2 separate regions of the Homo sapiens genome follow, and region 2 is linked to region 1. A link means that fine-mapping ties the variant in region 1 to the expression of a gene that starts in the linked region. Tissue or cell type: esophagus mucosa. Region 1 holds a variant in brackets; the other region holds the start of a gene. All regions are shown on one strand. Distances are from middle to middle.

Region 1 (6,985 bases):
TTCTGAGCATCGCCAGTAGTGATGGGGTGAAAAGAAGGGGGCAGGTCTTGACCATTATTTAAAAGCAGGGGCTGAGGGAGGGAGGTGTCTAAGAGAAAGCACATCTGTCACTCAAATGAATGGGTGGATGGTACCAATAGAAAAAACTGAAAAGAGTAGGCATAGGATAAGGGAAATGTGAGTTTATGTTTGGACAAGTTGACCAGAAGTTATAAAGATATGGTAGACAATTAGGAGTCTGAAGCTCTTGGGAAAGCAGAATGGAAACCACAGTTAATTGTTTGAGTGTTAAGTGCCAAATATTAAGTACTTTATCAGAATTTTCTCAATTAATCTTCACAGTCTTATGAGCTAGGTAATATTTTCATCCCCAATGCCGCCTCCCCCATCATAAAAGCGGAAGCTTAACCCATGTGACGTGCGAAGTTGTTTGCCCAAGGTCACGCCCCAGTAGGAAGAACAGCCTGGATGCAAGTTAAGGCAGACTGATTGCAGAACCCTGTTCAGCTACACCACCATAAGTATGCAGGTGGTAATTAAAACCTTGAGAGTAAATGATTGTCCAGGGAGCAGATATCAAGCGAGATGAGTACAGAACTGTAACAGGCGGGCCGAGAAAGTGGAATTAATGAAGGGGAACCTAAGGCTTTGTGGTTCTTTTATTATTATTAATTTTGAGACAAGGTCTCACTGTCGCCCAGGCTGGAGTGCAGTAGTGTGATCACAACTCACCGTACCCTCGACCTCCCAGGTTCAGGTGTTCCTCCCACCTCACCCTCCCAGGTAGCTGGGACTACAGGTGTTATACCACTACGCCCAGCTAATTTTTTGTACTTTTTGTAGAGACGGGGTTTCGCCATGTTGCCCAGGCTGGTCTTGAACTCCTGGGCTCAAGCGATCCACCCACCTCGGCCTCCCAAAGTACTAGGATTATAGGCAGGAGCCTCCATGCCCAGCTGGTTTTGTGGTTCATAAGCAATGCATGGCCAGGTTGAAAGCAGAAGTGGCCTTGAAAAGCCAACGCTACGAAACCCCTGGAGACAGAGAGTACACCTGGGCTTTACGAGTGAATGCAAACCCTGGCTAGGTTCCCCTCTAGACCCCTGTGGGATAAAGCATGACTGTTACTTAAAAACGGAAAGAAGGAATAGCACTTAACAGCCCCCCGGCTAACTAGAATTCTGAGAAATAAAAGTTAATACTCCACAGAAAGAAAACCTCATCTCCAAAGCAGCAATTCTAGTGGAGTACAGGTAAGGAAGATTAGGTGGGGCAGAAAGAAAAGGATGGGGCCCCTGGCCCAACCTTAAGATGGCCACAAATCCCAGTTAATCCAAAATTAAGCACCCCTTTTCACTCTTGAGTGTCTCAATTTGGATGATACATTTTATGGTCAACCTATTTATATATCTAGTGAAGGAAGGTACTCAGCTCAGCAGCAGAGTTAAATCAAAACTAATCTAAGAACTGACAGGAATAATTATTCCTCTTTGGACAAACACTTTTCTCCCACAAAGGTAACTGGAATTAGCTGTCTTTAACAGATGCTACTGAGGGCAGTAAAAGAGTGCCAGGTCTAGAGTCAGTCTAATCTGGGTTCAAATCTCAGTTCCAGTACCCCTATTTTAAGCAACTTTTTACCTCTCTAAACTTCAATTTCCTGATCTTGGAACTGCTGTTGCAGTTATAACTGAGAAAATTATTACAGTGACAGAGATCTGACCTAACCAACTCCATCCATCCTGCTTCTAACTTCCAAGCTGTCCTTGTTCATTCCCATGCGTAGGCTGAACTAACTTTGGGGGAAACTTAGTTGATAGCTTAACTTTGAAAGAGAAACTAACAGCCGTTTCCAAAAAAAAAAAAAAAAAAAAAAAAAAACCTCCTTTTAACAGCCCTTTCCAAAAAAAAAAAAAAACACTTCCTTCCTGCCTGGGGACTAGATTGCCTTTGTAGGACTAACACATTAGCCATAAGATTAGAAATTATGGTTTAGGAGTCATACAGCTGGAGGCCACAAGACTGACCCTCCCCAAATTGCTCGGGGGATAACATCACTATTGTGAAACCTAAGATCAGTGCTTGAGATAATTTGCAG[G/A]CCCTGCATTTGATGGATCAGCTGGCACCACCCAGATTAATAAACTGGCTCATCTGGTTGTGGGTCCCCCTCCACCCTTCCACCCAGAAGTGACTCAGCGCAAAAGGGCAGCTTTGATAGAATTTCATCTCTGACCCAACCAATCAGCACTCCCAACTCACTGGCCTCCCACCCACCAAATTATCCTTAAAAACTCTGATCCCCAAAAGCTCGGGGAAACTGATTGGTCTAATAAACTCCAGTCTCTTGCACAATGGGCTCTGTGGGAATAACTCTTTCTCTATTGCAATTCCTGTCTTGATAAATCAACTGTATCTAGGCAGCAGGCAAGATGAACCCACTGGGTGGTTTATTTGGTATAAATTATTTGGTACACAACATTGGCATGCCTATTCCAAAGCCATGAAATGAGGATTAAATGAGATGTTTCCATTTAAAATGCTTAGCTACTTTAAAAGGAATGACTTCCCCCATAAAATATAAGATGTATAATGAGGCTCAACCAATAAGGCAAACTGGTAAATAGTAGTAAGCTGAGGGAATCATAACTTCTAGTAGCCGTAATTGCCTCTGTAATGGCTCACTTACCACCTGAGTTGGACTCTGGTCTGCTTTGATTTAGGTGAATGTGTTTGTGATGGGGATGACCAAGACTTTTGCAATTTTCTTTGTGGTCTTTCAAGAAGAGTTTGAAGGCACCTCAGAGCAAATTGGTTGGATTGGATCCATCATGTCATCTCTTCGTTTTTGTGCAGGTATAAAGCTGGCAATAAGCTTGCTGTCTAAGGAGAAGAACCACAAAGGGCAATTCCAAGATTCCTATTCAAGACTGAATAGGAATTCAGTTTCTAAAATTAAGGTTCATTTACTGATATGTAACGCTGAGAAAGTAAGGAATTGCAATATTTAGCTTCCACTTGACTTAGTAACAAAGTTGGGAGAATCAGCATTCAAACAAAGAAAGCTGAGGAATTATTAAATGCCATGATTCAGTATTTCATGCATTGCCTTTCCAGTCTGTTAATGCCTTAATATAGGTTCAATGAGTAAGGCCCTCAACCTGGAAGTTAGGCCATGAAGTTCTAGTTATCTAAGTATATTCAAAACAATTTTATTTATTTTTTTTTTTTGAGACACAGTCTCACTCTGTTGCCCAGGTTGGAGTGCAGTGGTGCTATCTCGGCTCACTGCAACCTCTGCCTCCCAGGTTCAAGCAACTCTCCTGCTTCAGCCTCCCAACTAGCTGGGATTACAGGCGCCCGCCACCATGCCTGGCTAATTTTTGTATTTTTAGTAGAGATGGGGTTTCACCATGTTGGCCAGGCTGGTCTCAAACTCCAGACCTCAGGTGATCTGCCCACCTTGGCCTCCCAAAGTATGGGATTAAAGAGCCACGGCGTCCAGCCTCAAAACAAATTATAGAACCAATTTCTTCTCCTTTTATTTGGAGCTGTAACAGGGTGGAAGAGCAGATAAGTGATTCAACCTTATTCTAGTCATTGACCACTAGATGCAATCTTTTTGTGGAGGTTCTATAATGCATTTCAAATCACCTCCCCTCCAAACCTTACTTACAATCAACATTTCCTTTTAAACTCCCCTTCCAAAAACTAAAATAGTGTGGCACTAGTGATATTAAGAAACCCGATATGAAAATCTTTTTTGAAGAATACGTAATACTTCAAAGTAAACAGTCCTCTTGCTTTCCTTGTCATTCATTTAAATCGCCATCAGAGGATAAGGGATGCCAGATCATTATTTACCTAAGAATTGCCTTTCTTTCTTCTCTTAAGGTCCCCTGGTTGCTATTATTTGTGACATACTTGGAGAGAAAACTACCTCCATTCTTGGGGCTTTCGTTGTTACTGGTGGATATCTGATCAGCAGCTGGGCCACAAGTATTCCTTTTCTTTGTGTGACTATGGGACTTCTACCCGGTGAGTCCATTGTAATTATGTGACCATAGAAGGCCAGGAGTGGTGGCTCACACTTGTAATCCTAGCACTTTGGGAGGCCAAAGTGGGTGGATCGCTTGAGTCCAGTTCGAGACCAGCCTGGGCAACATGGTGAAACCCTGTCTCTACTAAAAATACAAAAATTAGCCAGGCCAGTGGTGGCACATGCCTGTAGTCCCAGCTATTTGGGAAGCTGAGGTGGGAGGATTGCTTGAGCCCAGGAAGCTGAGGCTGTTGTGAGCCGAGATTGTGCCACTGCACTCCAGTCTGGGTGACAAAGTGAGACCCTGTCTCAAAATATGTGTGTGTGTGTGTGTATGTATATATGCATCCATCCATAGAAGATAGAAGATGGAACAGGACTCTTCCCTTCTACTGTTCCTGGGTCCAAAAGGCCTAGCTGTATTATCTCGGATCCAGGAGATTATCTTTTCTGTTACCAAGCCACTTAATGTAAGAGTGATTCTAAACTATTACGTTTTTCTTTTAGGTTTGGGTTCTGCTTTCTTATACCAAGTGGCTGCTGTGGTAACTACCAAATACTTCAAAAAACGATTGGCTCTTTCTACAGCTATTGCCCGTTCTGGGATGGGACTGACTTTTCTTTTGGCACCCTTTACAAAATTCCTGATAGATCTGTATGACTGGACAGGTACGTCATTCTAAGTTTATTTACTATCAACTGTGCAAGATTTAGCGTTCAGCTTTCTCCCTTTGAGAAATGGAAGTTAAGACTTTCAGAGCAATCGATTTCACAAGGTATTGCAAGAGAGGAAATGAGCATAATTTCTAAAGTAAACATGCTTCTCTTCCCTGGAGAATACATACGCAAAAGAGATCTTGAAATACTTGCAGGCTTTGCCAGCTCACACAAGCAACTCAGAATTCACCATAGGGCTCAATGTCTGAGGAGATGGAGGGCATTCCGTGCAGCTGGAAACAGCTTGCAGTAAAAGCGATACTTCTGGGGAAATAAGGCTTCCCCCTTCCCCCCCCGCCCCCGCCCCATCAAAAACCCTCACTTTTCCCATTTTCCCTTTAAGACAAAAATCTGCATTTAAAAAAACTCCTCCCCCATCGGACTCACTGAAATAGATAAAAAAGAAACAAATACTTTGGTAAAAAGAGTATGTTCCTTAAGAGTTTATGTAATGTCAACTATAAATTTTCACAAATGAATAAAAAATGATTCAACTCACAATTTTCTTTGTAACTAAGACATTTGGATTAAAATAATCCTAAACTACTGGAAAAAATACATGTATATGTGTGTATTCATATGCCTATTGCTATCTACATGGCAGTTTTGTTGAATCTTTCCTAACTATTCAGTAGTCTCATGGTGAATGGGACCAGCTGACAAATCCATGATAGGATAGCAGAACCTATAGCCCATTCTATCTTTAGAAGCACCATACAAATCATAGCTTTGATCAGGACACGCTGAATGCAAGCAACTATTCAGCTCCAAAGGCAAGATTAGCATCTGTCATCTTTTAAGGAAGATCTAAAAAATGTCATGGGATGAAAGGCTATCCATGCCTTCCTCCCTCCCGCTGCTTTTTTTTTTTTTTTGAGACAGGCTCTCTCGCTTTGTCATTCAGGCTGGAGTGCTGTGGCATGATACCGGCTCACTGCAACCTCCACCTCCCAGGCTAAGCGATCCTCCCACCTCAGCCTCCCAAGTAACTGGGACTACAGGTGCACACCACCACATCAATTAATTTTTTTGTATTTTTTGTAGAGACAGGTTTTCACCATGTTGCCCAGGCTGGTCCTGAACTCCTGGGCTCAAGTGATCTGCCTGCCTCAGCCTCCCAAAATGCTAGGACTACAGGTATGAGCCATAGCACCTGGCCAGCTGTCCCCTCTTCTAAGGCTGTTTCCAAATGATTTCTTTCATCTTATTCTATTTTTTCTGTACCTAAATCTGTACTCTCACTTCAGGATATTTAAATTTTCTATTTAATTTTTTAGCATTTGAAACACTCTCCTCTCCCTCCAAAAACTTGCCCCCCCTACCCCCCTTAACACAAATAACCACCATCTCTCCTTTTATCCCATCTATTGGTGCAGCTTTCTGGTTTTCTATCTCCAAAGCACTACATTATTACACGGATACAGCAGTGTATATGACTAATAAGTCAAATCGGAGACAAAGTAATGTTTTCAAGAATTAATGGGCTATGCCAGTGGGGCCTCTTCTGAGCCTATGAACACAAAGCAGTATTGTGAACTGAAAGGCTATTTTTAATTGCTCAATCTCTCCCTATTTAGGAGCCCTTATATTATTTGGAGCTATCGCATTGAATTTGGTGCCTTCTAGTATGCTCTTAAGACCCATCCATATCAAAAGTGAGAACAATTCTGGTATTAAAGATAAAGGCAGCAGTTTGTCTGCACATGGTCCAGAGGCACATGCAACAGAAACACACTGCCATGAGACAGAAGAGTCTACCATCAAGGACAGTACTACGCAGAAGGCTGGACTACCTAGCAAAAATTTAACAGTCTCACAAAATCAAAGTGAAGAGTTCTACAATGGGCCTAACAGGAACAGACTGTTATTAAAGAGTGATGAAGAAAGTGATAAGGTTATTTCGTGGAGCTGCAAACAACTGTTTGACATTTCTCTCTTTAGAAATCCTTTCTTCTACATATTTACTTGGTCTTTTCTCCTCAGTCAGTTAGCATACTTCATCCCTACCTTTCACCTGGTAGCCAGAGCCAAAACACTGGGGATTGACATCATGGATGCCTCTTACCTTGTTTCTGTAGCAGGTAAGAAAGCCTACATCAGCCTCCTACCCAAAAGGAAAGATCAACTTAATTTTACAAGCTTATTACATTTTAATAAAAAGCTAAAGAAAAACAAAAGAGGAATTGTAGAAGGGCCAGAGAAAGTAAAATTTTTGAGGCTAGATGGAGCACC
Region 2 (6,412 bases), 25 kb before region 1:
TTCTCTAGAGCAGGAGTCCAAGACCCCTGAATTATAACATTCAAACTGGAATTTTGGCTGGGTGCAATGGCTCATGCCTATAATCCCAGCACTTTGGGAGGCTGAGGTGGGCGGATCGCTTGAGGTCAGGAGTTTGAGACCAGCCTGGCCAACATGGTGAAACCCCATCTCTACTAAAAGCACAAAAATTAGCCACGTGTGGTGGTGCATGCCTGTAATCCCAGCTACTCGGGAGGCTGAGGCAGAAGAATCGCTTGAACCAGGAGGCAGAGGTTGCAGTGAGCTGAGACGGCGCCACTGCACTCCAGCCTGGGCGATAGAGCAAGACTCTGTCTCAAAAAAATAAAGAAATAAACAAACTGGAATTTCAAGGAAGCTGCAAGCTTCACTATGACAGCTGCGGAATAAAAAGGGACTCTGAATGCCAGTGCAGTGTATTGGACTTTGGTTCAATACCAAAGTCTGGTATCTTCCGATCTGGGAGCTGGGCCCCAGATTGGAAGGTAGGCTGTGAGTAAAAAGCTGGAGGTGACAGAGTTGGAAGAAACTTAGTGCAAGGAATGATCCACAGAGGGGGTGAGGCTTACCAATTTGAGTAAATTAGCACCACTTTTTCGGGAGGCAATTTGTAAGTATGTATCAAGAGTCTTAAAAAATGATCATGTCCTTTAACCCAGTCATTCCATTTCTAGTAACTTATAAGGAAATTTTAAAACTGCACAGATATTTAGCTATGAGGATATTCAACCAGCATTGTAATAGCTAAAACAAAAAACAAACAAAAGCAAAAAAAAAAAAAAAAGTCCAAGTACAGTGGCTCACCTGCAATCTCAGCGCTTTGGGAAGCCAACGAGGGAGGGTCACTTGAGACTGGGCTACACACTGAGACTCCATCTCTACAATTTTTTTTTTAATTAGCTAGGTGGGGTGGCGGGTCCCTGTAGTCCCAGCTTCTTGGGAGGCTGAGGTGGGAAGATCGCTTGAACCTAGAAGGCTGAGGCTGGACTAAGCCATGATAGTGCCACTGCACTCCAACCTTAATCCACAATTAAGATACAGCTATAAAATGGAATATTTTGCAACTACTACAAAGGATGTAAGTGAAAACTTGACATGGAAAGACATTTATTCTAAACTCTGTAAAGAAGGCCAGCTACAGAATTGTACCTCCAGTATGTATGTCAATTTTGCTTACAAAACAAACAAAACAAAAAAAACCATGCTAGGCGTGGTGACTCAGCCTGTAATCACATTTTGGGAGGCTGGAGTGGGAGGATCTGTTGAAGCAAGGAGTTTAAGACCAGCCTGGACAACACAGCGAGACCCCCATCTCTACAAAAAAACGTAAAAATTAGCCAGACATGATGGCTCGAGGCTGTGGTCCTAGCCAGTCGAGAGGCTGAGAGGTGAGGATAGCTTGAACCCAGGACGTCCGGGTTGCAATGAGCTATAATCGTTCTACTGCACTACAGCCTGGGTAACAGAGCAAGACCCTGTCCCCCAAAAAATTTATTTTAAAAAGGCAAACGAAAAAACATTAAAAGTATACATTTACAAAGACAACTATCTGAAAGGATATTCTCCAAGAAGTTAAAAGTCGTCTTTGGACAGTGGGGCCATAGATGTTTTCCTATTTTTACCAGCTTTATAATTAATTTTTAAAAGTTATTTTCAAGTAGTCCTACCCAGTCTTCCTTACGAGTTAGGACTCAAATGCCACTCTCTTCCCCTAAACTGTCCTGAGTCCCCTCACCATAATAAGCACCAATGTCTTCGTTAAAATCCCGACACTGCCAACACTCAGCTAGGGGGTTGAACCTTGCTCCATCTCGTCCTTTAGTCTCTGTGTGCGTCTTTCCCCCTACAAGCCTACTGACCCCCTCCAAGAGGTCCCGTGTCTTCCCCGTACTTGCCCCACAGGCTAGATCAGACCCTGTCTGACCCCTGGGTTATTGTAAAACTTAAGATCTGTCCCCTAGGTCTCGGAGTCGGTTGAACTAGGGTCCAAAGGTTAAAAAACACTGACACAAAATGCCAGGCCACGAACTGAAGCACTGAGGCCCGGCTGCAGACCTCTCCCGAGAGGGGAATAATCCGTGCCGGCCGGTTCCGCCATGGAGCCAGGTGCAGGTCACCTCGACGGTCACCGCGCGGGGAGCCCAAGCCTTCGTCAGGCTCTGTGCGACGGAAGCGCAGTGATGTTTTCCAGTAAAGAACGCGGACGTTGCACCGTGATCAATTTTGTCCCTTTGGAGGCGCCGTTACGGTCCACGCCCCGCTCGCGTCAAGTGACTGAGGCCTGTGGTGGAGAAGGACGTGCCGTGCCGCTGGGTTCTGAGCCGGAGTGGTCGGTGGGTGGGATGGAGGCGACCTTGGAGCAGCACTTGGAAGACACGTGAGTAGTGCGCGCCTCTTCGGCCTGTCCTGAGGTCGCGGCGGAGGAACTTGAGCGGAACGAAAGGCGCGAGCTGCGAGTACCGGCCAGGGCGTCTCGGGGACGTCGCGCGACCCCCGGGACACGGGATGAGGGGGCTAAACTCTACCCAAGGCCGCAGGGCGGGGCGGGTGACCCGGAATTAAAATCCTGCCGGGCACCGCACATTCCCTCTTGAGCGAGTCTCCCGGGCCCAGGCCACGGGCCAAAACTGCCTATCTCGTTGTTGAAATCGTCTTTACGGTCAGGGTGGTTCTGCGGAAGTTTTAGAAAACGGGTTGACTTTTGGGAAGATTGTGCCAGTTGTGCAGTGTCGAGCCCTGCAGTGTAAACAAACACGTATCTCCTGTGTGTAACCTATCAGTTACTTGGTGCTTAAGTAGATAAAAATCATTCTTTAAATTTTTCGAACAAGCAGTATCTATGTAAAATTCAAAACTGGAAAAGTGTAAAGGGTACAGAGAGACACCTGCCTCCCACCGATGTCCCTCAGCTTCCACTTACCCTCCAGGAGGTAACTTGAGTTTTTCAACAGTTGTTTTAAATGAGTTAGTACTAAAACATGCGTTTTTAACAAGAGTGAAAACATCCTAGATGTTTTTCACGCAGTGTTTGTGGCCCTCCAGAACTCAGCAGTACTTAGCACATTTTTTTCTCTCATCAGAGAGAAACTGGTTTATTTCAATTAATTAACTAGAACTTAAATTTTTTGTGTTCTTTTTTTGAGACGGAATTTCGCTCGTCTTCCAGGCTGGAGTGCAATGGCGTGATCTCGGCTCACTGCAACCTCCGCCTCCCAGGTTCAAGCGATTCTCTTGCCTCAGCCTCCCGAGTAGCTGGGATTACAGTCATGCGCCACCACGCCTGGCTAATTTTGTATTTTTAGTAGAGACGGGGTTTCTCCATGTTGGTCAGGCTGGTCTTGAACTCCCGACCTCAGGTGATCCGCCCACCTGGGCCTCCCAAAGTGCTGGGATTACAGGCGTGAGCAACCGCGCCCGGCCCTAGAACTTAATTTTTTTCTTAGGGTGTGACAATGAAAAAAGATTGAGAAATATTGATTTAAAGCACTTAATGCCTGGTACATAGAACACCTGTATGTTTGTACTTATTTAAATCCTTTTTCTCCCATTATGTACTTCAACTCTCTTGTGTTCCTGGAATTAGAATGAAGAATCCCTCCATTGTTGGAGTCCTGTGCACAGATTCACAAGGACTTAATCTGGGTTGTAAGTATCTCTCATACCAACTATTTGATGAATTGCATAGCATCTGATGTTGACTTGGAGCCTAGCGTGCTATTATTTTCTAGCTTTTATTTCCTGTTACCTTGCCAGGTCTTTCTGAGTTTGAGAGTAGAGATTATCTCCAAATAACAGTATCAGAAAATTGAAACTTTTCAGTTGGTATTTATGAAGGAAGATGTTCCTTGCAGTCCTATAACAATAAATAGTTGTCTCTACTAAAAATAATATTTGAATCATTTTAAATTGAGTCTAGAAAGGACTTCAGATAATAACAGCTGTTAACCATTTATTGAATGTATGCCATATGCTGAGACTGCTAGGCTCTAAATACATTATCTTTAATTTTCACAACAACCCGGCAAGGTGGGTGGTGTACAATTTTGAAGCTCAACTACACTAAACAAGAAGTGAATAGGCAGTAAAATGGGATTTCAGTGTTGGACATACCTGGTCTCAATCCCTTGCTCTTTCATTTGTTAGTAGTGTGAACGTGGACCAAAAAACTACCTTTTAGGCCCTCATTTTCTTCACTGGGTTGTTATTTGATAATGGTAATAATCATAGAATTATATTTATTGAGCTGTTATGTGCCAAGCACCATTGTAAGTGCTTTACATATACTCTTTTATTCCTCATAACAACCCAGTGAGGTAGAAAAAGAAATTGAGGGACCAGGTGCAGTGTCTCACGCCTGTAATCCCAGCACTTTGGGAGACCAAGGTGGGCAGATCACTTGAGCCCAGGAGTTCAAGACCAGCCTGTGCAACACAGTGAGACCCCCCATCTCTATTTTTACAATAAACATATATATATGTTTTTAAAATTTAAAAAAAGAGGCCGGATGCGGTGGCTCACACCTGTGATCCCAGCACTTTGGGAGGCGGAGGCGGGTGGATCACCTGAGGTCAGGAGTTCGAGACTAGCCTGGCCAACATGGTGAAACCACATCTCTACTAAAAATGCAAAAAAAAATTAGCCAGGCATGGTAGCAGGTGCTAGTAATCCCAGCTACTCGGGAGGCTGAGGCAGGAGAATCGCTTGAACCTGGGAGGCAGAGGTTGCAGTAAGCCGAGATTGCACCATTGCACTCCAGCCTGGATGACAAGAGCGAGACTCTGTCTCAAAAAATAAAAAAAGAAACTGAGACACAGAGGTTAAATAACTTGCCTGAGGTCATGCAGCTAGTAAGTCGTTAAGCTAGGATTTTTGTCTGGCCCTGAGGCCTCTTAATCACTTTTTTTTTTTTTTTTTTGAGACGAAATCTTGCTCTGTCGCCCAGGCTAGAGTGCAGTGGCACGATCTTGGCTCACTGCAACCTCCATTTCCCAGGTTCAGGCAATTCTCCTGCCTCAGCCTCCTGAGTAGCTGGGATTACAGGCGCCTGCCACCACGCCCAGATAATTTTTGTATTTTTAGTAGATACAGGGTTTCACTATGTTGGCCAGGCTGGTCTCGAACTCCTTATCTCAGGTGATCCACCCACCTCCGCCTCCCAAAGTGCGGGATTACAGGAATGAGCCACTACACCCGGCCTAATCACGATATTTTAAGGTTATATAATATGTATAAAATGCTTACATAGAACTGAGACATAATACTTAATAAATGGTAGCAATTACACATGAGGAAATAAGTTTGGAAAGGTAAATAAGTAAAGCATTCAGTTAATTAGTGACAACTAGTAAACCCAAGACTTGTTGCTCCTAATGCAGGAATGTTTAAAGCTCTGAATTTTTGCTGGAAGGGTAACTGAAAGAGGTAATCGGTGTAACTCAGTTATGTTTAACATGCAGATCAGTCATTTGGGAGAAAAAGGGTAAATTTTTGGAAGCATTTGCTAGGCTTACTAATGGAAAGACTGAAATTCAGGTATGGAAATCTAAAACTAAATGAGTTCCTTCAAGAAACCTTCAAGGCTCAAACGTCGGCATCGGATCTGGTCAAAATGTTTTGTATAGTAATAGTACATCCAAATGCTCTGCCATAGTGGCATGTCTATTACCTGATTTGGTTTCAGGTACAGTTAACTTTGTGTTGCCTTTATATACAGAAATATATTGTAAAGTACACTTAGTAATTAATTTTCGTACCTAGAATTTATAGGTACTTTTGTACCCGAGATTTAGTTACTATAATATATACAGACTAATACAGACATTAATAAAAAGACAATTCTGTAGACATTTTAAAACAGCCAGCTAGCTTATTTTAGCAGAAATACTCTATGAGCAATCAGGTGACATATATCATCTCTATTTTCCAGGCCGCGGGACCCTGTCAGATGAGCATGCTGGAGTGATATCTGTTCTAGCCCAGCAAGCAGCTAAGCTAACCTCTGACCCCACTGATATTCCTGTGGTGTGTCTAGAATCAGATAATGGGTGAGTAGATTTCAGCAGATCCTTTCCTTTTTGTTCAGAAAAATTCCTGGTAAAATTGGCGGGGGCCGGCCCTGTGTTCATCAGTGATTCCTTATTCAGACTACTTTGGGAAAAGTTCTTAATCTTTTGAATCACAGGAACAGACAAGTTGATCCCTAAAGCTAATGTGCTCTCAGGCCACAATGCTATTTAAATGAAGAATAAGAATTGGCAGAAGCTATCAGTTTACCAACAAAAAGAAAGTAACAAATAGCACAAAGGAAAACTAATCAGAGAATAAAAATTACTTTTTTTTTTTTTCTTTTTGAGGCAGGGTGTTGCTCTGGCACCAGGCTGGAGTACAGTGGTGT

Evidence for each region. PIP is the estimated chance that this variant, and not a neighbour inherited with it, causes the effect.
Region 2: it holds the start of LAMTOR5, and the variant in region 1 is fine-mapped to the expression of LAMTOR5 in esophagus mucosa (GTEx, PIP above 0.99). The same link has a PIP of 0.9 or more in sun-exposed skin.

The regions. Positions count from the first base shown.
Region 1 is chr1:110,378,702-110,385,686 of GRCh38, reverse strand. SLC16A4 (solute carrier family 16 member 4) reads left to right here. Exons shown (of 9, transcript NM_004696.3): 3 at 2,721-2,853; 4 at 3,892-4,035; 5 at 4,544-4,705; 6 at 6,331-6,834. Among named protein-coding and RNA genes, the nearest start is that of SLC16A4, 8.8 kb to the left of the region's middle. The variant G/A (reference allele first, on the strand shown) is at 2,099.
Region 2 is chr1:110,403,569-110,409,980 of GRCh38, reverse strand. It overlaps LAMTOR5 (late endosomal/lysosomal adaptor, MAPK and MTOR activator 5), which reads left to right and starts at 2,287. Exons shown (of 4, transcript NM_001382293.1): 1 at 2,287-2,395; 2 at 3,602-3,663; 3 at 5,945-6,062. The coding sequence starts at 2,361. It overlaps LAMTOR5-AS1 (LAMTOR5 and SLC16A4 antisense RNA 1), which reads right to left and starts at 2,172. Exons shown (of 3, transcript NR_102697.1): 1 at 2,027-2,172. RefSeq lists an enhancer at 2,116-2,345.